Linked DNA regions of Homo sapiens. The protein of the gene in region 1 interacts with the protein of each later gene in a pairwise test. Each region holds a gene or a part of one and is shown on either strand. Other genes may lie near its edges.

Region 1 (4,736 bases):
ATGTACCATTAGAGCATTGTTTTAGCAGTATGTTTTCTATATTAGCTAACTTTCTATAGCCTGAATATCTCCAGTTACATAGTTTGAAATAAGTGAACACATCCTCCCAGTGTAACTTGAAGCAAACTGAACAGACTGTATAACAGCCCCTGAAACTGTCGTTTGAGTATCTGCAGTGGTAGCAAATTTTATTATTTGTAAATAATCTGATTTTTATTTTTATTTTTTTGGAGGCAGGGTCTCATTTTGTCACCCAGGCTGGAGTGCAGTGGAGTGATTACAGCTTACTGCAGCCTCAACTTCCTGGACTCAAGCGATCCTCCCACCACAGTCTCACGAGTAGCTGGGACCACAGGTGCATGCCACCACACCCAGCTCATTTTTGTATTTTTGTTAGAGATGGGGTTTCAGCATGTTGTCCAGGCTGGCCTTGAAGTTCCAGGCTCAACTGACATTCCCACCTCAGCCTTCCAAGTGCTGGGATTAATATGCGCGAGCCACTGTGCCTGGCCAGAATCTGATTTTTAAAAAGAGTAAATCTGATGGGTAAAAGTAGGGCAATAGAGCTGGATAATACCAGTTAGGAAGCAATAAAGATGAGGTGTGACCACAAAGTAAGAAGTTTTTGCTTTGTTCTTTTTTTTTTTTTTTGAAACGGAGTCTCTCTCTGTCACCCAGGCTGGAGTGGAGTGCGGTCGCGCGCTCTCGGCTCACTGCAAGTTCTGCCTCCCGGGTTCACGCCATTCTCCTGCCTCAGCCTCCCGAGTAGCTGGGACTGCAGGTGCCCACCACCACGCCCAGCTAGTTTTTTGTGTTTTTAGTAGAGACGGGGTTTCACCATGTTAGCAGGATAGTCTCAATCTCCTGACCTCGTGATCCGCCCGCCTCGGCCTCCCAAAGTGCTGGGATTACAGGTGTGAGCCACTGTGCCCGGCCTTTTTTTTTTTCTTTTATTTGAGATGGAATCTCACCCTTTTGCCCAGGCTGGAGTGCAGTGGCCAATCTCGGCTCACTGCAACCTCCTCCTCCCGGGTTTGAGCGATTCTCCTGCCTCAGCCTCCTGAGTAGCTGGGATTACAGGTGCCGGCCACCATACCCAGCTAATTTTTTTTTTTTTTTTTCATATTTTCGGTATAGACGAGGTTTCACCATGTTGGCCAGGCTGGTCTTGAACTCCTAACCTCAAGTGATCCGCCTGCCTCAGCCTCCCAAAGTGCTAGGATTATAGGCATGAGCCACCGCGCCTGGCCTGCTTTGTTCGCCTGCTTTGTTCTTAATGTGGCTCATAAAGGCTATTCCAAAAAAGAAGTTTTGGAAATGTTTTTCAGCAATGGTGATATCACTGGAATATGCATATATTCCTGAAATGATCAGTTTTAAAGAATCATTTGCATGTTTTAAATTTTGAAGCCTGTTTACTTTGTGGTCATACTTGAAAGGTCTGCTATCGAACTACCAATTTTTAATAGCTTGATGAACATTTAGGTTTTTACTATGTGCCAGGTTCTGTCCTAAGTACTTTACAAATATTAGCTCACTTCATAAGCTCATTCTAATGATTATCCCCATTTTACAGGTGAGGAAATGGGGCACTGAGTCATTAAGTCACTTGCCCAAGGTCACCCAAGTAGTGAGTAGATGCATCAGTAGCGAGTCTGAACTTCCAGGTCTGACTTCAGACTTGGGCAGTTTGGCTTCCCGGTCTGGGCTCTTAACCACTATGCTATGCTGCTCCTATGACTTATTCTTGGTTAAATGTTTTAAATTGTTTTGATCTGGAAGAGATGATGGTCCTTTTAGTAAATGATATCCAACATAGGTTATAATACTGTTAGAGGGGCCAATAAGCGGGTTATGAAAATAGCCTATTGATTAGAAAAGTTGTGGTCAACATTCAATTCACATGAGATTCAGCAAGAAAATAAAGAATGTGACCAGGCGCGGTGGCTCATGCCTGTAATCCCAGCACTTTGGGAGGCCGAGGAGGGCAGATCACGAGGTCAGGAGTTCGAGACAGCCTGGCCAACATGGTGAAACCGTGTCCTACTAAAAATACAAAAATTAGCCAGGTATGGTGGTGGGTGCTTGTAATCCCAGCTACTTAGGAGGCCGAGGCAAGAGAATTGCTTGAACCTGGGAGTCAGAGGTTGCAGTGAACTAGGATTGTGCCACTGCACTCCAGCCTGGGCAACAGAGTGAGACTCCATCTCAAAAAAAAAAAAAAAAAAAGAATGTGTGTGAAGTAAAATAATTTTGCTAGAATTACTTGACACTGAATGTAAGTAGTTGGACAAAGAGGATGCAAGGGCTAGAACTAGATTCTCAAAAAGTTTCATGCAAAAGGCTATTTAAAAACCTGAGTTATCAGGGGACACTCATGGAAAAGTTGGTGTTGTATTAAGAATATGTCCCTGTACAAGAACCAGAAGTCAGAGACAAATGGATACTCGCAATACATCCAGAGGGGTAAACAATGCTATTCCTCAGGGATTACTACTTAACTAGGTGCTCTTCAAAGCATTAACTGCTAGTATGTCCTCTGATACTATATAAATGGGTCAAAACCAACAAAAAATACCCCCACATGGAAATGTTTTGAAGTGGACTCCTGAATAACATTTAGAGATTCAAAACAATCCTAACTCTTTTCGTAGAAGAATTGGCCCCACATTCAAACACCTTCAAATAAATGTTAGATGCCAAGGAAGGTATCTAACAGTCATTAGGAACTTCCATAATGATACCGGTTCATGGGCCACACTACTAGCAATATCATCAAATGCTGCACAGTAACAGAAAGAGTACTGAAAACTCAAAAGAAAAATGATCTGACCAGTGAATAAAATGTTCAGTACAGAAGCAGCACTAGGCACTCAGCCCCAGAAAGGCAGATAGGTAATCTAGGGGCAATACAAAGCATAACAAAATATTTAAGGGACTGAGATGGCTGCCAAATCATTATAGGCTAAAAAGGCAAGAAATAATCACTTTGGGAAGACCAAGGCTGAGAGGTATTATCATCAAAGGCTACAAAACCAGAGGGGACATAAAAAAGGAGAATACAATTTTGTTCGCCAAATCCTGGAACCTTCCAAGAGAGCAGCACATGGGACTCAGGGCAAAGCTAAGACCAAAAACAGGAAGTTCATCGATGGCTATAAAGTTATGGAACTTATCCCAGTTGCTTCAAATAAGATAAAATCAATACATTACAAGTTTTAGACTTGAAATCATTAACTTACAAAATGCTTTATATAAGGATCAGGACTTTCTTCTATTGCTTTTTTTATTTTCCTGAGCTTTTAAATTTCTCTTTTTCTTAGTGACAGTAGAGTAACATGTCTTCACCACAACCTCAAATATATCTAGCTTCTCACTTGTGCTCTATGCTATCTGTTCTATGGGATTCCTTATTTTTCTTGGTGTCATCCGTCTGAAGCATTCTATGGGCCTGATGGACTAGGCTTCATCCTGGGACTTTTCATTGCAGCCCTAGGTTGGAGCCCCTATTTCCTGCATCCCATGCTGTCCAGGTCATGGTTTTCTCCCTTCTTTTGTACTTGTCTCAGGAAGTGTGTAGGAGGTAGCCCTCCTGACCTTTTTTTTTAAGTCTTTGTCTAGTACCTTCTGAGTTCTTGTATAAGAAAAAATCTCATTTCCTGAATTGTCTGTTTCCTCTCAGTTCACTAGGTCCTAAAATTTTCTTATTCATGCTACTGGGTTTTCTTACTTGTCAGATGGCTCTTGGTTGTCCATTTATATTTCAGGGCCGGATAATGATGATTTGAGGTAGCTAGTGTGCAGTGGTTATCTCTAAGGTTCTTCCCAATAAATCCCATCAACTCCCTATTCTTTGATGTGGAGCCTGTACTGAGCCTATGTCAGTGACTGAATGTGGCTGCCCATGTATCGGATTAATAATTTTGTCTAACTGATAATGATAGGTTTTCTAATATTGATTTAATATATGGTGGTACATTGTAAGGTGGAAGTAAACTACCCGCACATCTTTTTGCTTACTCCATTCCTGAAGTAGGAATTCAGATGTTAATAAAGTGGTACTTTGAAAGTCAAGAGGGAATATTGAAAGGATGATTATAAATCAGTTCACATATTTATTTATTTATTTTAGAGACAGGGTCTTGCTGTGTTGCCCAGGCTGGAGTGCAGTGGCACAATCATGGCTCACTGCAGCCTCAAAATCATGGCTTACTGCAGCCTCATTGCTTCTGGGCTCAAGCAGTCCTCCTGCCTCAGCCTCCCCATGTGTTGGGATTACAGGCATGAGCCACCGTGTCCAGCCTCAATTCAAATATTTATTGAACTTCCACTGTGTTCTATGTTTGATGATGTGGAGAGATTTAACCGTTCATTCCTTTAAAAAGATTTTTTTTTTTTTTTGCTAAACCTTCCTGAGTGGCTTGTGCTAGATAAACTCCAAGTTCTATGCATCTCCAGGTTTTTATTTATTTACTTTTTTTTTTTTTTTTTTTTTTTAGATTTTTAGACGGAGTCTCGCTCTGTCCCCCAGGCTGGAGTGCAGTGGCGCAATCTTGGCTCACTGCAAGCTCCGCCTCCCGGGTTCACACCATTCTCCTCCCGAGTAGGTGGGACTACAGGCGCCTGCCACCACGCCCGGCTAATTTTTTGTATTTTTAGCAGAGATGGGGTTTCACCGTGTTAGCCAGGATGGTCTCAATCTCCTGACCTCGTGATCCGCCCGCCTCGGCCTCCCA
Region 2 (4,736 bases), on another chromosome or scaffold:
ATCATTTTTCTCTAAATGTAAAGAAGATGAAATAATTAATCCAAAAATGAGTGAACAGTTTTAAATACCAGCACTTCTCTGTCAATAATGAGTGAACAGCTACAAATACCAGAGCTTCAGGGGTACCTTCTGTTTTTGCTTCTGCAGCGCAGCCTCGAGACTGTCAAGCTGAAACTGCCTTTGCTGCTTTTCCTTCTTCAGTTTGTCAAGCTGTCCTTCAAGCTCTTGAATTTTCTGAAGAGCTCTTGTAGGCAGCCCTTCTTTCCATTCTTCCAAAGCCCAGCTCATTTTGTTCTGCCTTCTTTATTACTCCAACATTTGTAAATAAACTGAAAAGAATAACCAGACTGTTGGTCTTACCACAGTAAAAGGAAACAAAGTCTCAGAAATTAATGAATCTATCTAACCACCCCTAAAAATCAAGTTTCAAGACCACATTTCAAAAGATAACAAAGTATAATACCTATCTTCTCCATCCTCTGAAAGGTGGCAACCAATAATTGATTCTGAAGTACATACTGTCCTGCTTAGTTTCCCTTTGCTTTCTGTTTTTCTTATTTCTCGGTGTTGACTTCTTATATCACTACCTGCTTTCTATTGCTCAGTTTTTTCATTATACAAAACATGGGGCAACAGTGATGCAAGATGGCAGTCACCACAGGATCAGGAGTAAAAGTCTCTCGAAGTTTCCAACTGATGGAAGAACTCGAAGAAGGCCAGAAAAAGGTAGGAGGTGGCATAGTTAGCTGGTGTTTAGAAGATGATGAAGACCTGGGACAAGATGGACAGGGATGATAATTGGGCCTCCAAGAATGATTTACGAAAATCAAGTATACAGCCTTAAAATAGAATGTATCCTAAATGCCCAGAAGCACCCTGCCTTTGTAAGATTTGTAACAAAAATTAATATAAATAGGGTTAATAGTTGTAATGGAGTGGTGGACCAAAAAGCCATATCAGTGCTAGCAAAATGGCAGAATTCATGTAGCATCAAAGTTGTCCTACAAGAGCTTTGGTGCCTAATGATGTCTAAAGAAAATGTGACACTCCTTCAGCTGCCTGAAGGACAGGGTTACAGCAGTTAATCAAAAAGAAAAACCATAGGCCCTTCCCCTTCCTGCCCCCCATTCAATTTAAACAGTCTTCATCTTCCACAGTAGTAAATTTTCTAGATATGCCTTGTAGACCTCAAAGGACTAGAAAGGAAGCTCCCATTCAAAGGAAATTTATCTTAAGATACTGTAAATTATACTAATTTTTTGTCCATTTGAAATATGTTAGTTGCGCTGTAACAATCATCCTGCCATGTGTAACATCCTGTCCACATACTTGAATTTCTGGGATCAAGAAAGTATATTTAAATTGATTCCCATCATAACTGGTGGAGTACATCTAACTCAACTGTGAAAAGACATATCACATAATCACCTTGCTGCTGATTAAATGGCCTGGGGCCTCTGCCTTCTCCTGTGGGATTACTGTTGGGTGTACAGGGTACTTTGTCTGTACCCCTGGTTTCCAAAAAAATTAAGGAGGAGGGACGCCTCCTCAACTCATTCTATGAGGCCAGCATCATCCTGATACCAAAACCTGGCAGAGACCCAACAAAAAAAGAAAACTTCAAGCCAATATCCTTGATCAACGATGCAAAATTCCTCAAAAATATACTTGCAAACCAAGTCCAGCAACACATCAAAAAGCTAATCCACCATAATCAAGTAGGCTTCATCGCCAGGATTTACGGTTGGTTCAACATACGCAAATCAATAAATATGATTCATCACATAAGCATAACTAAAGACAAAAATGACATGATTATCTCATGCAGAAAAGCTTTCATTAAAAATTCAACATCCCTTCACGTTAAAAACTCTCAATAAATTAGGTATTGAAGGAACATACCTCAAAATAATAAGAGCCATCTATGACAAACCCACAGCCAACATCATACTGAATGGGCAAAAGCTGAAAGCATTCCCCCCTTGAAAACTGGCAAGGAGGCCCTCTTCCACTACTCCTATTCAACATACTATTGGAAGTCCTGGCCAGAGCAACCAGGCAAGAGGAAGAAATAAAAGGCATCCAAATAGGAAGAGAGGAAGTCAAACTACCCCTGTTTGCAGACAACATGATCCTACATCTAGAAAACCCCATAGTCTTGGCCCAAAAGCTCCTTCAGTTGATAAACAACTTCAGCCAACTCTCAGGATACGAAAATCAATATACAAAAATCACTAGCATTCCTATACACTGACAACAGCCAAGCCAAGATCCAAATCAAAAATGCAATCTCATTCACGATTGCCACAATATGAATAAATCACCTAGAAATACAGCTAACCAGGGAGGTGAAAGATCTGTACAATAAGAATTAGAAGGCTGGGCTCAGTGGCTCACGCCTGTAATCCCAGCACTTTGGGAGGCTGAGGCGGGCAGATCACCTGAGGTCAGGAGTTCAAGACCAGCCTGGCCAACATGGTGAAACCCCATCTCTACTAAAAATACAAAGATTAGCTGGGTGTGGTGGCAGACGCCTGTAATCCCAGCTACTCAGGAGGCTGAGACAGGAGAATCACTTGAACTTGGGAGGCAGAGGTTGCAGTGAGCTGAGATCGCACCACTGCACTCCATCCTGGGCAACAAAGAGCGAAACTCCATCTCAAAAAAAAAAAGAATTAGAAAACACTGCTCAAAGAAATCAGAGTGACACAAATGGAAAAACATCCCATGCTCATGAATATGAAGAATCAGTATCATTGAAATGGCCATACTGCCCAAAGCAATTTGCATATTCAATGCTATTCCTATCAAACTACCAAAGACATTGTTCACAGAACTAGAAAAAACTATTTTAAAATTGATATGGAACCAAAAATAAGCCCAAATAGCCAAGACAAGCCTAAGCAAAAAGAACAAAGCTGACAGCAACATGTTACCCTACTTCAAACTATACTACAGGGCTACAGTAACCAAAACAGCATGGTACTAGTACAAAATCAGACACATAGACCAATGGAACATAATAGAGAGCCCAGAAATAAGCCGCACACCTACAACCATCTGATCTTTGACAAAGCTGACAAAAACAAACAATGGGGAAAGGATTCCCTATTCAATAAATGATGAGATAGCTGGCTAGCCATATGCAGAAGAATGAAACTGGACCCCCTCCTTACACCATATACAAAAATTAATTCAAGATGGATTAAAGACTTAAATGTAAAACCCCAAACTATAAAAACCACAGAAGACAACCTAGGCAATACCATCCCGGACACAGGAATGGGCAAATATTTCATGACAAAGACACTAAGAGCAATCACAACAAAAGCAAAAATTGACAAATGAGATCTAATTAAACTGAAGAGCTTCTGCACAGCAAAAGAAACTCAACAGAGTAAAAAGACAACCTAAAGAATGGGAGAAAATATTTACAAACTATGCATCTGATAAAGGTCTAATATCCAGCATCTATAAGGAACTTAAATTTACAAGAGAAAAACAACAACCCCATTAAAAAGTAGGCAAAGGACATGAACACTTTTCTAAAAAAAAAAAAAAAATACATGTGGCTAACAAGCATATGAAAAAAAGCTCAATATCACTATCATTAGAGAAATGCAAATTAAAACCACAATGAAATACCATCTCACACCAGTCAGAATGGCTATGATTAAAAAGTTAAAAAATAACAGATGCTGGCCAAGTTGAGAAGGGAACACTTATACACTTTTGGTGGGAGTGCAAATTAGTTCAACCATTGTGGAAAGCAGTATGGCAATTCCTCAAAGAGCTAAAAACAGAACTACCATTCAACCCAGCAATCTCATTCCTGGGTATATACCCAGAGGAATATAAATCATTCAGCCATAAAGACACATGCATGGCCAGGCACAGTGGCTCATGCCTGTAATCCCAACACTTTGGGAGGCCAAGGCAGGTGGATAACTTGAGCTCAGGAGTTCGAGACCAGCCTGGGCAACATGGCAAAATCCCTTATCTACCAAAAAAAAAAAAAAAAAAGGCACATGCACACACAAATGTTCATTGCAGCACTGTTCACAATAGCAAAGACATGCAATCAATCTAAATGCCCATCAGTGACAGATTGGATAAACAAAATGTAGTACACATATACCATGGAATACTATGCAGCCATAAAAAAGAATGAGATCATGGTTTTTTGCAGGAACATGGATGGAATTAGAGGCCATTATCCTTAGCAAACTAATGCAAGAACAGAAAACCAAATGAACACAAAGAAGGGAACAACAGACACTGAGGCCTCCTTGAGGGTGGAGAGTTGGAGGAGGAAGAGCAGAAGAAAAAATAACTATTGAGTATTAGGCTTAGTACCTGGGCAACAAAATAATCTGTACAACAATCCCCCATGACATGAGTCTACCTGTAAAACAAACCTGCATGTGTACCCCTGAACCAAAAATAAAAGCTAAGAAAAAAATAATATTTTGCCATAAGGTTTTCAGGTGAAATAGGTCCTATAAACAAAGAAAATGCATGACAAGATATTCTGCATATGCTCCTCTTTCCCTCTTCACATGGTTAATTACCACTCACACTTTGTCCCTCTTCCTCTGGGAAACTTTTCTGAGATCCCTGACCCGGCCATAGTTTCCCATCATAGTTACTCACAGCACAGGTAGCCCATCTCCTTCCAAGCAGTTATCATTTTTTAATAATGAATGCATGCATGAATGAAGAGTGAATGCCGTATT
Region 3 (4,736 bases), on another chromosome or scaffold:
CTCAGACTTTGGGGTGAAAAATTATTTAAGCAAATTCCCAAAAAGAAAATACAAGGCAAACATTTAATGGATATCATTACATTAAAATTAAGGATTTCTCTTCAACTACAGACACCAAAGACAGAATTAACAAAGAGATGAGAAACTAGAAGATATTTACAACGTTATAAACAGAGACTACAATCTAGAGTAAATGATTACTGAAGTTCAATAAAGAAAAAATAGGAAGCCCAGTGGAAACACTGGCCAAAGATATGAATGATTTCAGTTCTGGACAAGATGGACTAAGCATATACAACCCCAATCTCTCCCATTTAATATAGCTATAAAACTTGGATGGAATACACGGGGCAGCTATTTGGGAACTCTGGCAGGAAGATCAGGTAAGATAGGAATTTAAAGTACCAATAAACTTGTGGTGAGTTTACCCATTTTTCCCCTCAGGCGTCCCTAGTCTGGTTTCAACCCAGCCTCAAACCTGGAAATGAGCATAAATGCTGAAAGGGAGCTCCAAGGGAAGTCTGCTAGTTATAGTGGGAGGAGATACATCGTATTACCTAGAGAAAGGTTTCTCAACTTCAGCACTATTAATCTTGGGTAATTCCTTGTTGTGGGAGTACTGTTCTGTACACTGCAGAATGTGTGCAGCATCTGGGCCTCTACACATTAGACGCCTGTAGTACTCCCCAACCAAGAGTCTCCAGACATTGCCAAATGTGCTCTGGGAGACAAAATCACCACCACCACCACAAGCCACTACTAAGAAGTACTGCTCTAAGACTTGAAATAATAGATTAAAAGGAAATGCTGAAAAAAAAAAAAAAGTCCAAATAACTCAAAAGAAAGCAGAAAAGTAGAAACAGGAATGAAAAACAGAGGCTACAAACACAAAACAAATAAATGGTAGGACTAAATCCAAACTTTTTGCTGTCTACAAGAATCTCGCTTCAAATATAACAATATAGGTAGGTTAAAAGCAAAAAGATGGACAAAGGTATGCCATACAAACACTTTTTATCAAAAGAAAGGTAGCGTGGCTATGTTAACACCAGACAAAGACTTCTGAGTGTCTTGAGTAAGTGTCCATGAACAGATGAATGGATAAAGAAAACATGGTGTGTATGTGTACACATATATACACACACAATAGAATACTATTTAATCATGAAAAAGAATGAAGTGCTACCATTTGCAGCAACATAGATGAACTTGGAAGACATTTTGTTAAGTGAAATAAGCCACGTGCAGAAAGATAAATTCTGCATGTTCTCACTCATATGTGGAAGCTAAAAAAAGTTGATTTAGTAGAAGAAAAGAGTAGAATAGTGGCTACTAGAGGTGGAGAAAGAGTAGGAGTAGGGAACTGCCAAAGGTTGCTTAACAGATACAAAAGTACAGCTGGATAGGAGGATTAAGTTCCAGTGTTCTATAGCACTATAGGTAACTATAATTCACAACCATTTATTGTGTTTCAAATAGCTATAGGAGTGAATTTCCCATGATACCAACAAATGATAAATGTATGGGGTAATGGATATGCTAATTACTTTATTTGATCATTACACACTATATCCATGTATTGAATTATCACACTATGCCCCATAAATATGTAGTTATGTATCGATTAAAAACAATAAAAGAAAAGGCCATTAGAGAAGATTTAAAACTTACCGAGGATTAAGAGGGATATGATATAATAATAAAAGGTAAATTTGCCAAGAAAACACAACAATCCTATATAACAACAGCCCTTCAAACTATTAATACATGAAGCAAAAACTGAGAAATGAAAGGAGAAAAACACAAATCCGTAAGTGTTGCTGTAGATTTCAAATCTCTTCTCAAACTAGCAGACAGAAAAAACAACAAGAATACAGAACTGAGCAATACTATCAACCAACTGGATCTCACTGACATTAATAGAAAACTTCACCCAAGGACTGCAGAATACACATTATTTTCATAGGCTCCTGGGTTATAAAACCTCAGCAAAGTTGGCCGGGCGCAGTGGCTCACGCCTGTAACCCTAGCACTTTCGGGAGGCCGAGATGGGTGGATCACGAGGTCAGGAGATCGAGACCATCCTGGTTAACACGGTGAAACCCCGTCTCTACTAAAAATACAAAAAATTAGCCGGGCGTGGTGGCAGGCGCCTGTAGTCCCAGCTACTCCGGAGGCTGAGGAAGGAGAATGGCGTGAACTCAGGAGGTGGAGCTTGCAGCGAGCCTAGATCGCGCCACTGTGCTCCAGCCTGGGCGACAGAGCGAGAGACGTCTCAAAAAAAAAAAAAAAAAAAAAAAAACCTTAGCAAAGTTAAAAGAATTGAAATCATAGAAATTTCTCTGACCTTTAAGAATCTTTAAGTATTTAATTATGAAAGTTTTTTTTTTTTTTTTTTTTTTTTTTTTTTTTTTTGAGGAGTCTCACTCTGTCGCCCAGGCTGGAGTGCAGTGGCACGATTTCTGTTCACTGCAACCTCTGCCTCCCGGGTTCAAACAATTCTCATGCCTCAGCCTCCCAAGTTGCTGGCATTACAGGCGTGCACCACGACACCCAGCTAATTTTTGAATTTTTTAGTACAGACCAGGTTTTGCCAAGTCGGCCAGGCTTGTCTTGAACTCCTGATCTCAAGTGATCCACCCACCCTGGTCTCCTAAAAAAGTCTACTTTATGAAATAAAATATTAAGTATATTTAAGCATTAATTTTATCAACATACAATAATATACCAAGACAATTATATGTCAACATAAAATAATCATTACTATAACCTTCATTTTCATAAGGCCCCATAAATAATAATATGCAATCCCTGGCTGAAACTGGAAATGACAGTCTAATTAATCCACTAAGACAAGAATTCTAAATTCATTATTATATCAAATCAGATTCATGTGATTTGGGGACTTCTATCATAAAGAAGGTAGTTGTATAAAACTATTAAATTGCAGTGTATGCTACATTGTTTCCTGATTAAGATAAAACAGTAGCACATATACTAAAAAGAATTAAATGTCTATAATCCCTTTCCCTACTTCCAGGGCCAGGGAATAAAAAGCTAAATGCTTACATCTAATCTGGTTTGATGCTGCTTAGTCATCTGATCTTGAACCTTCAGTCTTCGGAGAAGTTCCTTAAAACCCACCATTGGTACAGGAATTAACCTGAAGAAACGCAGTGAACAATTTTCAGACCTTAAGCCTATTACTACAAAATACAAGAAGTGAAGGTTTTAGTAACACTCATGTAATTTTACATCAACTTTCTAGGGCTCTAAGGCAGATCTATGACTATGAGATAACCATGTTATACCAAAGAGATTTTATTCAACCTCCCTATTTTACAAATGAGGAAATACAGTTCAGTCAAAACATTACATTATTAAATGAAAACGCAAATAGAATTTTCCGCTCCTAGTTAGTTCTCACTATGCTATGCTGCCTTACCATAATCTTTTTTTTTCTTATTTTTTTCTTTTTGTTTTGGCTGAAGCTTTAGCTGGACAATAATCAATATTTTTTAAAGGCCAGGAAAATGAAAATAAACTTGTCTCATATGTAAGAATTATAATTAATAGCTCCCATGTTTGCTTTCCTAGTAGCAAATATTAGTTCTTAAATGAAACAAGATGAAGACATACTTACTTTTCAGAATCAGGGTTATCTACCTTGGCCTGTTCCCAGATAATAGGATCAACACCTACCACAAATAAAAAATATTTTTTCTAAAACAATTTTCTATTTTTATAATATGTGTATGACAAAGGCTTTCCTAAAGCAAGACCCTATACCTAGAAGCTATAATGAAAAGTGACTGTCAAATATAATCATGGTAAAAATACAAATTTTTGCAGAATAAATAAAGTTCAAAAAAAGCACAGATTGAAAGGAACTATCTATAACCTATAGGATAATAGATTAACCTCCAGAATATAGAAAGAGTTCCTATACATCAAAAAGGAAGACAAAAAAATCTAGAAAATGGGCAAAGGACACAAATAGGTAACTCACAAAAAATATAAATGTAGCTAATAAACATATTAAAAATAAGTATTAATTTTTAAATTAATTATTTTGCCATCAGTGGCCAGAAAAAATAACATTCCTGTTATGAATATAAACGGTAGAACTTTCCCTGGAGGGCAATTTGGCAATATCTAACATACATAATATTGACTCAAAAATTTCATTACCAGAGATCTATTCTAAAGAAATATATACCAATGTGTTCTAAGACATGTTTACAAGGATATTGTTAATTACTGTACAGTTTATAATAGTAAAAAGAAAACAACTTAGAGGTGTTAAGTAAAGGTGTATCCATGGAATACTATGCAATGTTTAAATACAGTAAGATTTATCTTCATGTATTGACATGAAAAGTGCTAAGGAATACTGTAAAAAGGCAAGCTGAAGGTGTATATGGAGAATCCTTTTTTAAAAGATCTACATGTAAATATGCTTACATTTCAAATCACAGATAAAGGATTAAACATAGTACCATAAATTGACAGTAGTTACTTCCGGGGAAAGGAACTAAAGGTAATCTATCACATAGTCAATCTAGTTATGCCATCCAGAATATTTTACAGTTAGAATACATTCAGGTTTTACTTGAATATTCAGTTAAAATGAGATAAGCTAGAAAAAAATAAGCCAAAATTTTACTAGTAAATTACCTTTGGGTAGATGGATTATGGACTATTTTTCTTCAGTTCACTATTTCTCAAAATTTCTA
Region 4 (4,736 bases), on another chromosome or scaffold:
ATCTCACATTTCAAAAGACATCATGCCCACAGGGACCCGATGTTCACCTTATCAATAAAGACTGCACTCAATCAGATAATGACATAAACAGGCACAATATTTCACTATCAGTTATCACCAGAAGATTCTGTGGCCACAAAAAGAGCAAGACTTTACCAGCTCAAAACAGCTGTCTTGATAACAGCCTGTCTGGCTGTCACTTGTGATCAGCACCTGGCATCTGTCACCAAAGGCTCCTCCTTGCAAGAATGTTGACAACCGTCCAGATCAGGCCAGAATATTCTCTTTGTCCAGTTGTTCTCTTTGGACTAGTTCTTTAGCCCCCCCCCCCTTTTTTTTCTATCCTTTTCTCCTGTTAAATGTTACTTTGTTTGATGTGGAATGTTTACACTGCAACATTTACATATATTAATACACTATTATGTATGGTTTGCAATACTGACTGACTTGTGGAGAGGCTTGAGCCTGTATGCCCATGGCTCTGACTATTGAGTGAACTGGTAGTACTAGGGGGAAATGCCTCCTTGGGAACTCCATGTAGCTTGTGGCTTTTATGACTGAAATAGCATCAATAAAAGTTTGCTCTTGTAGAAAAGACACAAACATGTATGGACCTGGTTATGTCTGACTTTGCACCACTCACAACACATATGATTCAGAAAGCACACTATTGGGTAATCTATCCAAAGGAAAGGAAATCAGTATGTGAAAGGGATACTTGTACCCCCATGTTTATTGCAGCATTATTCACAATAACCAAGATATGGAATTGACTTGAGTGTCCAACAGCAGATTAATGGATAAAGAAAATGTCAGAAATATATCCATCATGGAATACTATTCAGCCATAAAAAAGAATGAAGCCCTGTTATTTGCAGCAACATGGATAAAACTGGTGGTCGTTAAGTGAAATAATAGGCACAGAAAGACAAATATCTCATGTTCTCATTCATATGTGGGGTCTAAAAAAGTTCACCTCATGGAGGTAGAGAGTAGAACGATGGTTACCAGAGGCTGGGAAGGGGTTGGGGGTGAAGAATGTTTGGTTAATGGGTACAAACCATACAGTTAGGTAGAAGAGTAAGCTCTAGTGTTAAATAGCACAGTAAGGTGACTACTAAGTAACTAGTATGTAACTAGTTAAGTAATTAGCACAGTCGGGTGACTAGCACAGTAAGGTTCCTTAAACTTTAAAAATTTACTATATATTTCAAAGTAGCTAGAAGAATTGAAATGTTCCCAACACAAAAAATGATAAATGCTTGAGCTGATAGGTATACTAAATACCCTTATTTGATCATTACACATTATATGTATGTATCAAAGTATCATGTGAACCCTATAAATATGTAATCATGTATTAACCAAAAAAATTAATTTTAAAAAAAGCAAACTTACCCACCATGCCCTCGATTTTGTATTCCTTCTAACAAAGCCTCCATCACCAAATCCCCTTTGTTTTGGCAACTGACAAAGAAAAAAATATCAGTCATGAGACAATTCATTTCTTCAGTTCTAACATTCTAACTTACAACTTAAGAATGTGAATGAAAGCATACATAATAATGAAAAAATGCAGCACTTCTTAAGATGACTGTAGAAGCAGTCAAAGAACATCACTTCAGGAATACTAGGAACAAACTATTTCGGACTAAAACAGAATAACTTAAAAATATCTGAATTGCGGTTGACACTCTCTCCGTGTAAATATCAAATATCTCATTGTTCTTTGCCTAATTCCTAATGTCGGGTGAGCAGGGGTGGAGGTGGGATCTCTCTAGCAGACGGATACACAAACTCCCTTAACAAAATGAGAAAGAAATGGGTTCACACATGTCAGAGGGAAAGTATAGCTTTTTAAAAATTAAAGAGATAGTATAAAAAATGCGAAGTGTACTGAGATTAAACTCTTTGGTCTATCATGGGAAAGCCTACTCACTCCTGAAGACAGGCTCATAGAGCTTCCTGCATGCAACATCCTCTCTCCACCGAAAGGCAGCCACAGGGCCCTCCCACCTCTGCACTTCATTTGCTCCCAGTGCTTAATACGTTCTTTCATAGGAGTTGCACCACACTGGAAGTGAGTTTTTTACATACTATTTTTCCTTACTAGACTATTCATCCCTCCAGGGCAGAAACCCAATTTTATTCATCTCTGCAGCTGCAGAGCTCAACGCAGCATTTCAACATGGCACGTGGCAGATTATTTTGGCTGAACTTAACTCCCCTCCCTCTTTTACCTACCCTCTCCCCCATGCAAACTGGTCACAGCTGGGGAACTACATGAAGGGTCTAGCAGAGAAAGAGGGAACGGGAGATAGAAGACTGCCATATAAACAGCAAGATACAGTTGGGTGCGGTGGCTCACGCCTGTAATCCTAGAACTTGGGAGGCCGAGGGAGGCGGATCACCTGAGGTCAGGAGTTTGAGACCAGCCTGGCCAACATGGTAAAACTCCGCCTCTACCAAAAAAAAAAAAAATTAGCTGGGCATGGTGGCATGCACCTGTAGTTCCAGCCATGGGGAGGCTGAGGTAGGAAAATCGCTTGAAGTCGGGAGGCGGAGGTTGCAGTGATCCGAGATCACACCATTGCACTACAGCCTGGGTGGCAGACAGAGATTCCATCTCAAATAAATAAATAAATAAATAAATAAATAAATAAATAAATATAAAATAAAGGGTAAGATACACCATGAAGAAAGGTGACAGTGAGAAAGGAAAGAGGACCCTTAAACTCAGTAGTGTTGATTAATATGTGTATGCTTCTCGCCTTTTATAATAAATCTTCAAAATGTTCAATGTCAAACCACTTTTCATTCCAAAATGCTTTTTCCTTAAACCCTTAAGACAATAACCAGACTGTGGTGTAGAGGTTCTGCCCCTGGGCTAATCCTCATCTAAAAATTATACTGCTGTAAGAAGTAGATTATTTTACTCAACACGTAATTCAATGTTGTACTAACAACTAGATATATAGTGATGAAAGATATGGCCCCTTTCAAGGTATTAATAGTCTAGTATGGGACAGAAAAAAATGAGCCAAAAAGGCTTTCCCAGTGTGATAAATATAGTGAGAGACATGCCCAGGGTGTTCCAGAGACACAGAGGAGAATGAGAAGACTGGAAAATAGAACCACTGCACCTTATTTGCATCTATTTTTAAAGATACTAACAAACTGAGTATTAAATTATTTGTGCACAAACGTGACAGGGAGGATTTTTTTTCTAGTTGGTTTATCCTACATATTACACCAAAATTGCAAAAATAAAAACCTAAAGAAAAAGGTTCCCATGTTTTACTCCACTTTCAAATCACAATACAGTCCAACTACAATGCAACCAAGATTCCATGTTTTGGTCCACTCTAGGAGAACTGGGAGGCAGTACACGGTCCACACCACACTAGATGGAGACCCAGGATACAGTCCTACTCTGCAACTAACTAGCTTTATATTCTCGGACTTGTTTTAACATCTGCAAAATGAGGGGCATGAACAATATTCTCTAAGGTTTCTTCCAGCTTTTTCATGGGTTCTAACAGCCAATTAAATGTCCACTGTAAGTAGCATGCTCCTGACAACCATACACGGATACTTAACTAACATGTAGGAAAGTGCTATTCTTATTGACAGTGCTATCACAGTTATTCAAAATTATCATTAGTAAAATTATACTTATTTAGGTCATGTTATTCTTAAACATTAATATATTTAGTAATATACATTAATATATTTTCTATGACTATTTAATAATATACTTAGAAGTTAAGTTACTGAATGTTCAACAGCTGCCTTGTACACATTGTCTAAATCAATCTTCACTATACTCATAAAAGACAGATACTATTACTTTGAGAAAACAGGCTTAGAGAGTTAAATAACTTGACTATGATAAACTAAAAATTATAGTCCTGGATTCAACCTAGACATTGTGGCAATCAATTGAGTCACAATCGATGTGCAACCTTTATATATTTTACAGTATTCTATATCTTAAAATATATCAGCCTATCTTTTGGCTTAATAGTGTCTTTGCAATAAAAAAAGAAATTAAACTGAAGTATGACATCACTACTGTGGCCACCAGGTGGCAGCAGCACAATAATGAAATAGTCACATAAGAAATATTGCTATTTTAGAAATCAAAATGGTCTAAGATAGAGATTCCTGTTTAAAAAAAAAAAAAAAAAGGAGGGAAGTGGACCAGTAATATCCTATGTGAGAAATAAAGTAAACTTACTAATGTGCAAAGTGTTTCTGTAATACCTTCACCATCTGCCTGGTGCCAAACACCATCAATTCTCAGGATCAGGCAAATAGTAAGGGCTGATTTTCTGTGGATGTTTGTCATCTGAGTTGCTCATAGTTATATCACTGATTCTTTTCCTAACCAACCTGACCATCATTCAACTCTATGCACTATGTCACTTTGATTTCTTCTTTGCATGTGCCATATAATTACATAAAATTAGACCATCCTGGCTAACACGGTGAAACCCCGTCTCTACTAAAAATACAAAAATTAGCCGGGCATGGTGGCGCGCGCCTGTAGTCCCAGCTACACGGGAGGCTGAGGCAGGAGAATGGCGTGAACCCGGGAGGCGGAGCTTGCAGTGAGTCAAGATCGCGCCACTGCACTCCAGCCTGGGCGACAGAGCAAAACTCCGTCTCAAAAAAAAAAAAAAAAAAAAAGAATACAAATAGAATGTCTTATAATAGGCAAATCTTTGAAATTC
Region 5 (3,951 bases), on another chromosome or scaffold:
CTTCTGATGGAGAAGCAGTGAAGTTCAGAACGTTCTTCACATAGTCCAGATACTGTTAGAGTCAGGCAAATCAGCAAAGCACTTTGTTATGGAGATGACCCATGATGGCTGCAGTTGTAAGTGGGCATACATGTTCTATCATTTTGAAGGAGAAAGAAAACCGTTCTCACATGTTGCAAATATGTGAATCATACTATATTCCCCTAAAGTAAAACCAGTGACTTAGTGGTTTTTGGTTTATTTAGAAGTTGGTTTAGACCCTTATGAAACATTATTTACGAGTTGGCCTTATCCTTAAGGGAAAAGTTCTAAATTTTTAAATTTATTTTTAATTCCCTAGTCTGAGGGAAATGTCTTTATTGTCCATTACATAAAAATGTTGACTCCAGTAATTTATTTTTCTCTATTTTTTCCTCCATGTATTTACTCCATTTTTCTCTATTTTTTCCTTCCCTGATGGATTTGCAGAAATGTTAACCAATTAGCTCAACTTTTCTCTACCTTTGTTGAGTCTTAATCTTTTAGAAGATAGGCTTATCGTATATTTATGAAGCATAATATATTAAAAGAAAACAAATCTAGGATGCTTGCATGACATAAAGTATTTGCCTGCAGTTTTCATTAAAAACTGCAAGAATATCATGCTTGTCTGCTTCTTAGTAAATGTTAAGTCTGAAATGGAAGTGAGGATGTAACTCTACTGAATAATCAAAGATCATCTTAGATTTGGCTTGATCTGTGTTTATTGCTTCTATTAATGTAAATCAACTCTGTGCCAAATCCTCCTCCACAAACCATTTATTGTCTTAGTTCTAGTGGTATCAATGAAGATAGTTACAGTATATGAATTCTAAGTCCTGAGGAAGAAATTTTATGGGGTTTGTTAAGTTTCACATTCGTGAAAGAGGAAATTAGTAGAGTATTCAGACTTTGATATTTGGCTGTTAATGGGATGCATATCAAATTTTTAAAAGAAGGCTTGGCCTAAGGAGTTTATTGGTACAGGTGCAGATGATTTTAAGGCATTAAAGGATTATAGAGTTATGTCATTTAGACTGTTTCTAATAACTGAGACCATCTAACATTTTTCTTTTGGAGTCTCATTTTTATTTGTGCAATATTTTCAGGCATATAGGCTACTGTTCATTGTATTTATATATATATTAGAATTTACTAAGTACTTTAACAAGTAAAAATCTGAATATGAAAGAAAATATCAGATTTGCACTTTAAATGAGCTTAATTGCTTGAAGTTGTGCCTGAAATATCGAATTGCCTCCTATTGGGTGTGGCTTTGTTGAAATAAATTTGTAATTGTTGCTGTTTGAAGATATCAGTACAGCTGTTCACAGAAATATATTCCCAGCATGTCACTTTTCCATTAAAGCACTAAGTTTTCTTTGAATGTTCCATTGTTCCGATAAGTATTTTACTTTTTTCTCAGTACATCAGAGAGAGCGTGATCCCCCTACAGCTGTCACTTCCAAATGTTCCTGTAGCATAAATGGTGTTACAGACACTGAGGTGCACTCTTGGTTTCTGAGCAGAGTTGTCATACTGGTTTCCTGGTCTCTAGGGCACTGGGGATGTACTTTGAAATCACCGAACAGGCTTGCAATTAAGATCAATAAGGCTGCAGCACCATTTCAATTTACTTTCCATCTTACCCAGTAGTTTTTGTGTTTTTAAATTCGTTTGGGTGGTTATGTTTGCATGCTTAAGCACACATTTGAAAATTAATTATAGCTGTACTACCCGATGTTTTTCCTTGGGGATGATGGCCTTGTTCCTTTTTAAATTCTGATGCTTGAATTCTATTTTCTAGTGATTTTTCACATCTCCCTTTAAGTTTTTGCTGCAGCAATTTGAGAGAGTACTTTTGATTAAATGATTCTGATGGTGGGCACCAATCTACAACTATGTCATTAACTGAAGATACATGTTTTAATCTTGTTGGGAATAAGCTTACCCACTTTCTCCTTGGTAAAGCGTTTACTTAACAAAATAATACCCGAGAATGTAAGGTCTCTAAGTCATTACTAACAAAGAGCAAAAATAATATCTGCAGTATTGTTTTTCCCATTGATTTTAAGTCAGTTTAGAGTACAAACTGTATATTAGAATTTGCCTGTAAAATGAATTCTAAAAAGCAGATGTAAAGTCTCTCCTGAAAATGTTGGCATAGTAAATAAAAATAAAGTTCATAATTATAAAAGTTCTCTTGTCTTTCTCAACATTGACTCCCATAGTTTGCTTTTTCTTTGATATCTTTTTTCCCACAAAGATCTAAGATACTGTTCATTTGCTTATGTTTTTCCCAACTCTGATACTTTATTTTACATGCTGCCTTCACACACATCTTGACACCCCAAGCCCTGATTGAGTAGGAGTTGATCAGTATTTTGTTGTTGTGTCTTCACAAATTCTGTAAGAGATCTAGTACTTTCGTTTCCATTGTAATAAAATACCTGCTTTATCTTAGAATATTGGGATAATGGTTAATGGACATTTCAAGAAACATTAGCACCTTGGATTTAGAATGCTGTACAAGGAAGAAAACACTTGTAATTTTAATTATTTTGTCATTGTTTTTAAGCAGTATACAAAATAGCTTGAGGCAAGAAAGGTGTTTAGTGAAATTTTACATAATTTTTAGGAACAAAAGGAGTAAGGAATATATATTTTTTCAGTTTTACAGTTTAGTCAGATGCGATAGTCCCGTAATAAGAGACAAAAAAGTTGATGCAGTGGTATGTTATTAATCCAAAATGTTTACACGAATTCTGGGAAAGGAGGGAAATTTTATTAATAGTTTGATAATAGCACTTATTACCTCTTAAGACACCTGTATGAACTTTAAGGCCATCTGAGTTCTTAGTGTTGCAGAATTTTGCTCCTTAGGTCGGCTAAATCGGGGTTCTTGTGTCAGGACCAGGAAAATGTAGACACATGGACACATTGAAGTGTGTGGGGAATGGAATTCATTGGGCAAAAAGGAAAAAAAAACTCAGCAAAGCAAGGGGGGAATCCTGCTAACAGGCCCCCACCTCACAGATAAGTTCCAGGCCACCACACATGTGAGCTGAAGAGCTCAGGCTCTTCCCTCCTGCCCAAGGCTGGAACTTCCCGTGGCTCCACCCAGTTCTCCCAGTGCACAAGCTGGTTGGAGATTCTCTGAGGACCCTCCCCCTTATTGGCCTTCTGCATCTATCATTAGCAAGTACTTTCTTATACTAAAAATTTTCCCTTTTAATTTTGTCATTAAGTGTAGTCATTTCAGTTTCTTCATTTATGCTGTTGATTGCGCGTTTTCCATTGTGAAAATATTTTATCCCTACAGAAAAGACAAGCATGAGTTAAAGAATTGACTTCTTCCTCTGTTAACTTGGTTTAAGTAAGTTTGATGGGATGTCTTACCTGTGTCACTTGCTGTGCTGGCTGCAGGGTGTACAAAGGTAACGATGATACAGGTTCTGCCTTATGGAGCTTAGGAACCCTAGGGGATTTTTAACATCATCCGATCCATTGCAGCACTGAGCCCTTCCCTTGCATTCCCTGTTTATTATCTTCCTTTGAACCTACCAGTCTCTTTTGACGTTTCCTCTTCAGTTTCATTTCATTCTGGGCTTTAACTCCCTTGCACTATTCTCCTCTTGGATTCTATATTATGTTTATTCTTGTTTGGTTGCATGCCTTCATTTCCCTAGAAAACCTGGCCTTTTATTATTTTATCCAAGAACGAACTTCCTCTTTAGCCACTATTAAATACTCTGCTTTCTACTTTAGGTTCTTGGAATTTGATTTTAAGACTTCTCGACTATCCTAAGGCCACTGTCCCTTTTAGAACCTCAACCCATAAGATGTTGCTTTCTGAAGTCTACCTTTAACATTCAAATTCATGTCCGGGCTTTTCCTTCCATCCCATTCTCTTGGATAGATCAAATATAATAT
Region 6 (4,142 bases), on another chromosome or scaffold:
TTTCTTCAAACTGATGAACTTTTGTTTGAAAGGCATAAGGAGTGAAAAGCTCCTTGAAAATCCAGGCGGGTATGGAAAGGTGCTGCTACCCATATCTTTTTGACTTTCTTTGTTTCATGACTTTAACTCATGGCATCTCCTTTGTAGTAAAAGGAGACAGACCATTAATTTCAGCATTTCTTTGTGATTTATAAGTACTGAGCATGAAGTACTTGTCTGCCCCTCATTTCAAGGCCAGAGTTATTTTCTATTTATGTATTAGTCTAGGCTGATCTTTTAGGGCACAATAGAAACCATGGGGCGTGGAGCATGAGTTGTGAATGGCAGGGATCATTCTGGGTAAAAAAAACCTAGAATCATTTCTGATGTGCAACATTGTCAAGTGAAGAAGCTAACAGTTCAACTACCGAGATTATTTGATAACCTGGGTTTTCTCATTCATCCATCAAGCACCATCAACCAGTCAGCCATTATTATTTATATATGTATTACCAAAAGCAGTCTATCTGCCTGTGACCTCCAATGTACACTGCCAAACACAAGAGTAGGACACATCTGTTCTGGGTTCTTGACCTATCTGTCTCCAATTCATCTCCCCTTTTCAGCCATTTCAACAAACTACTCTTTGGAGCTCTGAGATGACATCTTGTTGTTTTATATAGATGTATCTTTTAAAAATAGTTCACGTTTGGAGAATTCTTTTGTACTCATTTGCTTTTTGTCTGAGAACCATGTCTATTTTTATAACTGGAGTGTGAGTTCTGTATCTTCTCACATTCTGTATACTGTATCCATTTTCTAGAGAACCCAGTAGCTTTTATACAGTCTCTTCTTACCACCCCTTGTGGTTTCAGAACAAGCTTTATTTTATTACGAGTATATTAATGACAACTAATTCCTGTTCCAATTCTACCTGTTTTAGTTGTGAAGGTAGTTTTGTGTAATCCAGTTGATTGCTCCTCTGGCAGAGAGAAGGAGCTCAAAAGATACTTGATGTCTTTCATGTAAGTTTACCTGGTCTTTTCCTATTGAAGAATTTTTCATCAGAAACGACTGGGAAAGTTTGGGAAAGTCAGCAAAAGAAAGAATGCATTTCGAAAGCAAACAGAAGAAAAAAGTATATTCTCACAGTTTTTCCCCAGGAAGTCTGGAGAAAAAGTCCTCATGTCACCAATTTCTCTGTTGCATGAATTTTAGTGTTTTGCTATAAGACAGCATGAGGGCTATCAGGCCAAAATTCATTATTGTATTTCCAATACAGTTTGTCTTGAATGTCTGTCTCTTAAACCAGTTTTTACTTGTCAGTTTTCTCTCAGCAAACAGTCTTACTATTATGTGGAATTTAACTTTTCAGAGAAAATTTCCAAAGTCCTCTACCTTATTTGGCTTTTATCTGTGTCTTTTGGAAAAGGAGCTGCATGGCCTCAGTGCCTCCATAAAAAGCTTAAGTTGAGTTCATGGGAGAACATTAAGATCGTTTTTTTTCCCTTTTAGCTCGGTAATCTCATGTACCACAGGTAATGACCAAGCATCTCTGCTAGAGGATGTAACTCTCATAACTCCTGTGTAAAATGAGGATCCTGTTGGTGATCCTCATTCCAGTTTCCAAAGCGAGAGGAGCCTTCTGAGCAGAAGTATGCAAGACTGATTCTGTTTGGAACAGTTTCCTATTTGGCTGCATTCTAGGAGGCCTCCTGACTTATTCATAGTATTGTCGCCTGGTGGCATTGGTGTGGGGTAGCTTGTCCTGCTACTTGCTAAAGTTCTCTTTCTTTGAGAAAACTGAGGAACCAGAATGCTTAGAGTTCATAAAATAATCTCTAAACCATGTTAGGTTAAAACAAAATGACCATCTCACAAAAACGAGTTTAGTTGAATGCTCAATTCCTTACAAAATCTTCATTTAAGGCTGAGTGTGGTGGCTCATGCCTGTAATTCCAGCACTTTGGGAGGCCGAGGCAGGAAGACTGCTTGAGCCCAGGAGTTCAAGACCAGCCTGGGCAACGTAGGAAGACTCCGTCTCTACATAGAAATTTTATTATAAAAGTAGCTGGGGATGGTGGCACACACCTGTAGTCCCAGCTACTCAGGAGGTTGAGGTGGGAAGATTGCTTGAGCCCAGGAGTTTGAGGTTGCAGTGAGCTGATCATGCCACTGCACTCTAGCCTAGGCTACAGAGCAGGACCCCATCTCCAAAAAAAAAAAAAAAAAAGTCATTTAAAAACTGAAGAATGTTCTCTTCTTGCTCAGTTCCCTAAATTAGCTGGGGGGATTGGGATACTTTACAATTTTTACATTTTTAAATTTGAAGAATTTGTTTTAAACTTACTTGGTAATGGCACTTCTACTTACTGACCAACTTTTCAGCTCTTTTTGACCAGGATGGTTGCAAATTAGGGAAAATATCTTTATACTATACATCCAATTCAAGAGGACTTTAATTACTTAAAAGCATTTAGGTCATAATTAAAATTATTTTCACTGTTTCCATAAAATAAGCATTATGATTGCACACTCCTTCTACTGTCTGAATTTATGTAAGAGGTATAGCTTGCTTAAAATACATATATATGTAAAGTTATATTTTCTTAGAAACATGGATGTTTACAGCCATTGCTTTCAAAGAGATTATTACTGTGTATTCTCCCTGTTTTACAATATGTTTTCATGAAGACTATGTTACACCAGAGGCTTCTGATTATCAAAGTGATAACCAGTTTTAACTGCCGGTATGTACCAGATTTGTGAACTAATTTAAAAAACCACAAACTATGAATAAAATGGGGTTTGCAAACTAAATATCATTAATGATTTTCACTTGCGTTTACTGATGAGATTAATCAATAAAGCCATTTACATTTAGTGAAAGCAAATTTCCTCAAGTGATCTCCCTGGTAGCATGTTTACTCACTATGTGGAGTGGAGATAAGAATTACTTTATTGCTACAGATATTTTACAATTAGTATTTCTATGTAAGCACATAGGCTATTATCAAGGACAATTTATTTAGCACTTATTTTGAAATTATATGTAAACATGCAAACAAATAAGAACCCAAGAGTATAAACTCTATGACAAAAGTCAGTATGCAAGCATTAAGAACTCTTTCAGAAATGTGTATTTAAAATGACCAGAATTCCCAGATCATTTGAAAGCTGCCTCTTAAATGCCTCTTATCAATTCATCTTAAATGTTTGCTATATTAAATTCTTTATCCCTGAGTGCCTTCATTTGACTTCCAATTACGTATTTTCAACTATTAATTGGCTATCCCATTATGTTAAAATTAAATATGTACATAACTCAAAATCTTTCACTACCAACTAATTTCTGTTTCTCTCAATATCAGTGATATCACCATTCTCTTAAGTATCTCTATTTCAAACCTTTGAGTCTTGAGTCTCCTTTTCCATAATTTCCTTTATCCAGTCTGTTTAGTGGAATTCAAGCTTGTTCTCTCAGGACTGATTTGAGAAACCTAAGCATTCCTAGCCCACCTCTGGGGTAAGCTCGCCATCTCTGGACTGTTTGAGCTATGCATTCCTATAATTTAACTACACTTAAGTCAAAAGTATATTCAAGACACAAACTCGCTATTCTTTGAAAAATGCAAAACAGGGTTTAAGCAAGCATACCTAAGTGCACAACAGATCCGGAAGATCACCTCATACTTTATACCAAAGTCTAATTTAGATCCAGTTATTAAGTTCAAATGCAGCAAAAGCAGCAAGATATTTTAGCCAACTCAAAAACATTTTTATAATAATTTATAAGTCCTGGGCGGGCATGGTGGCTCGCGCCTGTAATCTCAGCACTTTGGGAGGCCGAGGCAGGTGGATCACCTGAAGTCAGGAGTTTGAGACCAGCATGACTAACATGGTGAAACCCCGTATCTACTAAAAACACAAAATTAGCTGGGCATGGTGGCACGTGCCTGTAATCCCAGCACTCGGGAGGCTGAGGCAGGAGAATCGCTTGAACCTGGGAGGTGGAGGTTGCAGTGAGCCGGGATCATGCCACTGCACTCCAGCCTGGGCGACAGAGTGAGACTCCATCCCCAAATAATAGTAATAAGTCCTTTCAGTAATTACAATTATTCTTTCATTGCTTCTTCCAATTGTTAATTCATAAGTTGTACATA
Region 7 (4,736 bases), on another chromosome or scaffold:
TGTTGCCATCTCCTTTGTGGGCTATTCATAGTCTCTGGCCTAGACTCTTAAAGAACTTGAGTTCTTCAGTACCTGAGATTTCTAATTAGTTCAGTGCTTCTCAAGATTTCTTCAGTACTACTCTCCCAAAGGAACTTTTCTAGACTTTTTCCTCCCCAGATTATCCCTCCATCCCATGAAATTTTAATACACTGCTTATGTCCTGTGGCCCTTTGGAGGGACATAAACCATTCTACTAACTTATACAACCTAAAATTTTTTTGCTACCTCTATTCCCTACCCCCAAGAAACAATTTTTTCCCTTGGAGGATGGTGGGTAATACTGCACCGATGAGAATGTATGATGTAGGTGGATAGTAAAGAGCAAGAAAGACATGGTCATGAGGCTCAAGGTTTCGTTGAGGCAAGGAACAAGGGGAGGAACTGTGGGGAAGTCTATAAGCCTGGGCAATAGAGAGCTTGATTTAGGACTTTTGATTTGCAGAGAATTTAAGTTATCCTTAAGAAATGGAAATCATTATATATGTACAGTTTAGTACATTCAGAAACTAGATCTTCTAAATTACAAGAAATTATCAATCCTGCTTTCATGTCACTGCTGCTACCTACGGCTTACTTTTTTGTTGGTTTGTTTGTTTTTTGAGACAGGGTTTCACTGTTACTCAGGCTGGAGGGCAGTGGCACGATCACAGCTCATTGCAGCCTCAACCTCCTGAGCTCAATCAATCCTCCCACTTCGGCTTCCTGAGTAGCTGGGACTACAGGCACCCATCACCATGCCCCAGCTAATTTTCAAAAATTTTTTTGTAGAGATGGTGTTTTGCCATGTTGCTCACGCTGATTTCAAACTCGTGGGCTCAAGTAAATCCACCTGCCTTGGCCTCCCAAAGTGCTGGGATTGCAGGCATGAGCCACCAAGCCAGGCCTTTATGAAATCGTAAATATTGATTTCATAGCAAATTGTCACTATACTTCAAATAGCACATCACTACAAAGTTTTGACGTAAATAGGTAAGAATAACTCAAAAACTGATCTAACAAGCAATTTGGCCACTAATTGAGAATGAAATCTCAGGAATGCAGATGTCTATGGTATTAATATAGTAGGAAAGAGTAATGGAAGACAAGTAACTTGGCAACTGATTTTCAAGTTAGACTTCGATTTAAAGCAGGTCTCAATCCGGGTTAGTAACACCTGGGGATTAAATTTTTCAACGTAAAGCAAATGAACCAAAATATGAGTGAATATGAAAATTACCAAGCTGTAGGGAATACATTGAAGAGGTTAAGGGTACAGGTTTTAGAATTAAAATCTGTTTGGTTTCCTACCACTTACTATTTATGTGATCTCAGTTTCCTATAAGGTAGGCATAATAATAGATTGTTGGTGGGATTCATCAGACACTTATATAGTGTCTGGTCCACATTTGTTAACTGCTGTTACTATCTTCAAATCATTACCTTTATTATGATTTGTATGTGGAACATCCTACTTGAACCATACATTTTGGAGCTCTTATAGGGATTGTTGTTGCTTCTCTATACTCTTTGAAATACTTTTGGATTCTAATTTTGTCCTGCGGAATGCTATAGGAAATATTTATCCAATACTTCCTATTTTACCTTATTTTTCAGATTATTAAACAATTTTATTCAATAAATATTTATATAGCATCCGCTATGTAATACTTGCTATTTTAGTTACTGTAGAGCTATTATCTTCCCCAACACTTGTTGCCTTTTTTAAAAGGAAGAATTACCAAAGAAATGTACTTTATGTATTAGCTTTTTAAAAAGTTTGTTATTTGTAAAGCCATATTAAATACTTTCTGAAGTACAATAGAGAACACATAAAAACATTGTCAAATGTAAAAAAAATTTGTCTTACCGTTCGTATCTTTCAGTTGAGATCTGCCTTTTCAGAGCATCATAATCTGTTTGTAACTGTGCCACTTTAGCTCGAAGCATGGTGTTTTCCCGGCTTTGACTAGTTCTTAAAAACAAATTAAAAAATCAAGAAATAAACGTTCCGTTTTGTAGAGTCAGGTGCTGTGGGTTTTTTAAATTAATAAAGAGAAGATCAAGACCTTTCAACAAGAATTCTCTAAACTTCTAGAGCTTTTATCACATTTTCTTTTTCATTCATTTAGTTTATTTATGAAACATGTACTGAACATCTATTATGTGCTAAGCACTAAAGCAATGCTAGGGATACAAATTTGAACGAGACATAAATGGTAACACCAAGATGTAAAGTGTCTTCATTGGCTCTTTCTTGACTCTTGCCTTGGAAAGAGAAATATTAATATTTTTAATACCTTTCAAAAGCTCATTCTTCCATGTGTACTCTACTCTGGGTTTCTTTCCCTCTTCCTACAAATATGTCTAAATCCTTCTATTCTAAAAATATGACATAATCAGTCTCTCCCAAAGTAATCAATACATGTATGTGGGTCAAATCTCATAGCCTTTTTAGAGTCCTTTTTCCTAATCTACAGCATAAGACACAGCCACCTCTTCTTCTCCCGAGAACACTTTCTCCTTCACTGACTCCTCTGTCCATTCCTCAACTGTAGGCGCTTTCCTAACGTTTTCTCTTCTCATTACTCCCACGGTACAACCTCTGTAGTGAAGATATACAGGTCTGCACCTCCCAACACGATGTTTCTCCCGAGTCAGTCTCCTAAATTTCCAAAAGCAGCAGATGTATAAGCCAAATATTTTGGTTTTGGGACAGCGTCTCGCTCTGTCGCCCAGGATGGAGTGCAGTGGTGCAATCTCGGCTCACTGCAACCTCCACCTCCTGGGTTCAAGTGATTCTCACGCTTCAGCCTCCTGAGTAGCTGGGACTATAGGTGTGTGCCACCACGCCTGGCTTTTTTTTTTTGTATTTTTAGTATAGACGGGGTTTCGCCATCTTGCCCAGGCTAGTCTCAAACTCCTGAGCTCAGGCAATCTACCCGCCTTGGCCTCCCAAAGTGCTGGGATTACAGGTGTGAGCCACTGCACCTGGCCTATCTTTCATACTCTTAACCTTTCCTCCACTTCAAAAAAATTAAAAAACTATCCTTCACAAGCAATTGTCTTTGCATAAGTTGACTTAAGACACTTACAATTTGCTTTCAGAAAGGGTTAACTTCTCCTTAAGTAGCTGGATTTCTGTATCCTTCTCGTGGGAGGTTAAGTGAGAATGAAATTCTTTATCTCTGTTTGTAGCCAACAATGATTCGAGGTTTTTAACTGTATGTCTCTCATTTGAAAGTTGTTTTTTCAGTAGGTCTGACTCTGACTTTACATTTTCTAATTCCACCACAACCTACGTGAAAAACAAAGTAAGATTACTTCAGTACAATTTTAAACTTACTCTGAAAAAATTATTTATCTGACAATATAGCTCTGTGGAACTATTCACCTATCACTTGTTTCATTTTGGGTATGGGTTAAAGATTATGAACTGTTTCTTTAAGTATAAGAAAGACACTTTATTTTCAAAATAATCTTTGCTATTTTTACTATGGGCTTATTTGGCTATAGGATCTACTCAAATCCTCAAATAATTTTTAGTCATGGTACCTTATCAAGAGACGGTCATTAAGATAAAACCACAAGGGCAATGAGACCCTTCTGGTTGAATATGCTTACTCTGACTACATAATCAAGCCAGTATTATAGTTTCTCAGTACCTGAAAATAAAGATACTACTAGATGAGTGAAAATTGAAAACATCCATGTTTGAAAACAAACACTAGGTTATTTAAAGTAATGCCTCCATCTGGGAAAGGTAAATTCTAGCTAAATAGACTTGTTTAATTAAGATTTAAACACCTTGAGATTTTTATCGGGAAAAATATTCTACTTCGGAAGCACTGAACTGTTCAATCCTTCATTCAAGTCTTACTTTTTTTTTTTGAGACAAGGTCTCACTCTGTTGCCCAAGCTGGAGTGCAGTGGCACAATCTCTGCTTACTGCGGCCTCGACATCCTGGGCTCAAGTGAACCTTCCCTGCCTCAGCCTCCCGAGTAGCTGGGACTATAGGCACATGCCACATGCCTGACTAATTCTTTGTATTTTTTGTAGAGACGGGGTTTTGCCATGCTATCCAGGCTGGTTTCAAACTCCTGAGCTCAAGCAATCTGCCTGACTCGACTTCCCAAAGTGTTGGGATTACGGGTGTAAGCTATCGTACCTGGCCTCAAGTCTTACTTTTAAACAGAGAAAGAATGTATTAGGATATGCTGATTTATAATCAGAAAATTCATAATCTCCTAGATAGCCATCTATTCCAAAACATTACCCACTTTCATCACTACGTTTGCCTGAGAAATCTTGCAAAGAATCAAGCAGTCAAATCTGGTTGTCAAAATCCTGTAGTCAAAAGTAACTATTGTAGGCTGGGTGCAGTAGCTCATGCCTGTATCCCAGAACTTTGGGAGGCCAAGGCAGGCAGATCACGTGAGGTTGGGAGTTTGAGACCAGCCCGGCCAACATGGTGAAACCCCATCTCTACTAAAAATACAAAAATTAGCCAGGTGTGTTAGCAGATGCCTGCAATCCCAGTTACTCAGGATGCTGAGGCATCCTGAGATGCCTGAGGGAGAATTGGTTGAACCCAGGAGGCGGAAGTTGTGGTGAGTTGAGATCGCACCACTGAACTCCACCAGCCTAAGCGACAGAGCAAAACTCCATCACAAAAAAAAAAGTAACTACTCTAAAAGGAAACAAGTATATGCATGGT

Evidence for each region.
Region 2: the proteins of NDEL1 (region 1) and CENPF interact in binary tests that used the Homo sapiens proteins (3 or more experiments, as listed by UniProt).
Region 3: the proteins of NDEL1 (region 1) and NUP54 interact in binary tests that used the Homo sapiens proteins (3 or more experiments, as listed by UniProt).
Region 4: the proteins of NDEL1 (region 1) and CEP63 interact in a two-hybrid assay, tested with the Homo sapiens proteins (2 studies listed by BioGRID and IntAct).
Region 5: the proteins of NDEL1 (region 1) and CCSER2 interact in binary tests that used the Homo sapiens proteins (3 or more experiments, as listed by UniProt).
Region 6: the proteins of NDEL1 (region 1) and DIXDC1 interact in binary tests that used the Homo sapiens proteins (3 or more experiments, as listed by UniProt).
Region 7: the proteins of NDEL1 (region 1) and CEP135 interact in binary tests that used the Homo sapiens proteins (3 or more experiments, as listed by UniProt).

What each region holds. Positions count from the first base shown.
Region 1 is NC_000017.11:8,438,304-8,443,039, forward strand, and holds part of NDEL1 (nuclear distribution protein nudE-like 1), read left to right. Parts: intron 1-4,736. UniProt on the Homo sapiens protein: Required for organization of the cellular microtubule array and microtubule anchoring at the centrosome. May regulate microtubule organization at least in part by targeting the microtubule severing protein KATNA1 to the centrosome.
Region 2 is NC_000001.11:214,609,307-214,614,042, reverse strand, and holds part of CENPF (centromere protein F), read right to left. Parts: intron 4,024-4,736; exon of another isoform or gene 464-4,023; intron 330-463; 5' UTR 289-329; coding exon 127-288; intron 1-126. UniProt on the Homo sapiens protein: Required for kinetochore function and chromosome segregation in mitosis. Required for kinetochore localization of dynein, LIS1, NDE1 and NDEL1.
Region 3 is NC_000004.12:76,127,587-76,132,322, forward strand, and holds part of NUP54 (nucleoporin p54), read right to left. Parts: intron 3,699-4,736; coding exon 3,644-3,698; intron 3,164-3,643; coding exon 3,070-3,163; intron 1-3,069. UniProt on the Homo sapiens protein: Component of the nuclear pore complex, a complex required for the trafficking across the nuclear membrane.
Region 4 is NC_000003.12:134,492,027-134,496,762, reverse strand, and holds part of CEP63 (centrosomal protein of 63 kDa), read right to left. Parts: intron 1,468-4,736; coding exon of another isoform or gene 1,443-1,467; coding exon 1,399-1,442; intron 1-1,398. UniProt on the Homo sapiens protein: Required for normal spindle assembly.
Region 5 is NC_000010.11:84,516,303-84,520,253, forward strand, and holds the end of CCSER2 (serine-rich coiled-coil domain-containing protein 2), read left to right. Parts: 3' UTR 1-2,215; downstream 2,216-3,951. UniProt on the Homo sapiens protein: Microtubule-binding protein which might play a role in microtubule bundling.
Region 6 is NC_000011.10:112,019,786-112,023,927, forward strand, and holds the end of DIXDC1 (dixin), read left to right. Parts: 3' UTR 1-2,868; downstream 2,869-4,142. UniProt on the Homo sapiens protein: Positive effector of the Wnt signaling pathway; activates WNT3A signaling via DVL2. Regulates JNK activation by AXIN1 and DVL2.
Region 7 is NC_000004.12:56,017,933-56,022,668, reverse strand, and holds part of CEP135 (centrosomal protein of 135 kDa), read right to left. Parts: intron 3,317-4,736; coding exon 3,114-3,316; intron 1,994-3,113; coding exon 1,889-1,993; intron 1-1,888. UniProt on the Homo sapiens protein: Centrosomal microtubule-binding protein involved in centriole biogenesis. Acts as a scaffolding protein during early centriole biogenesis.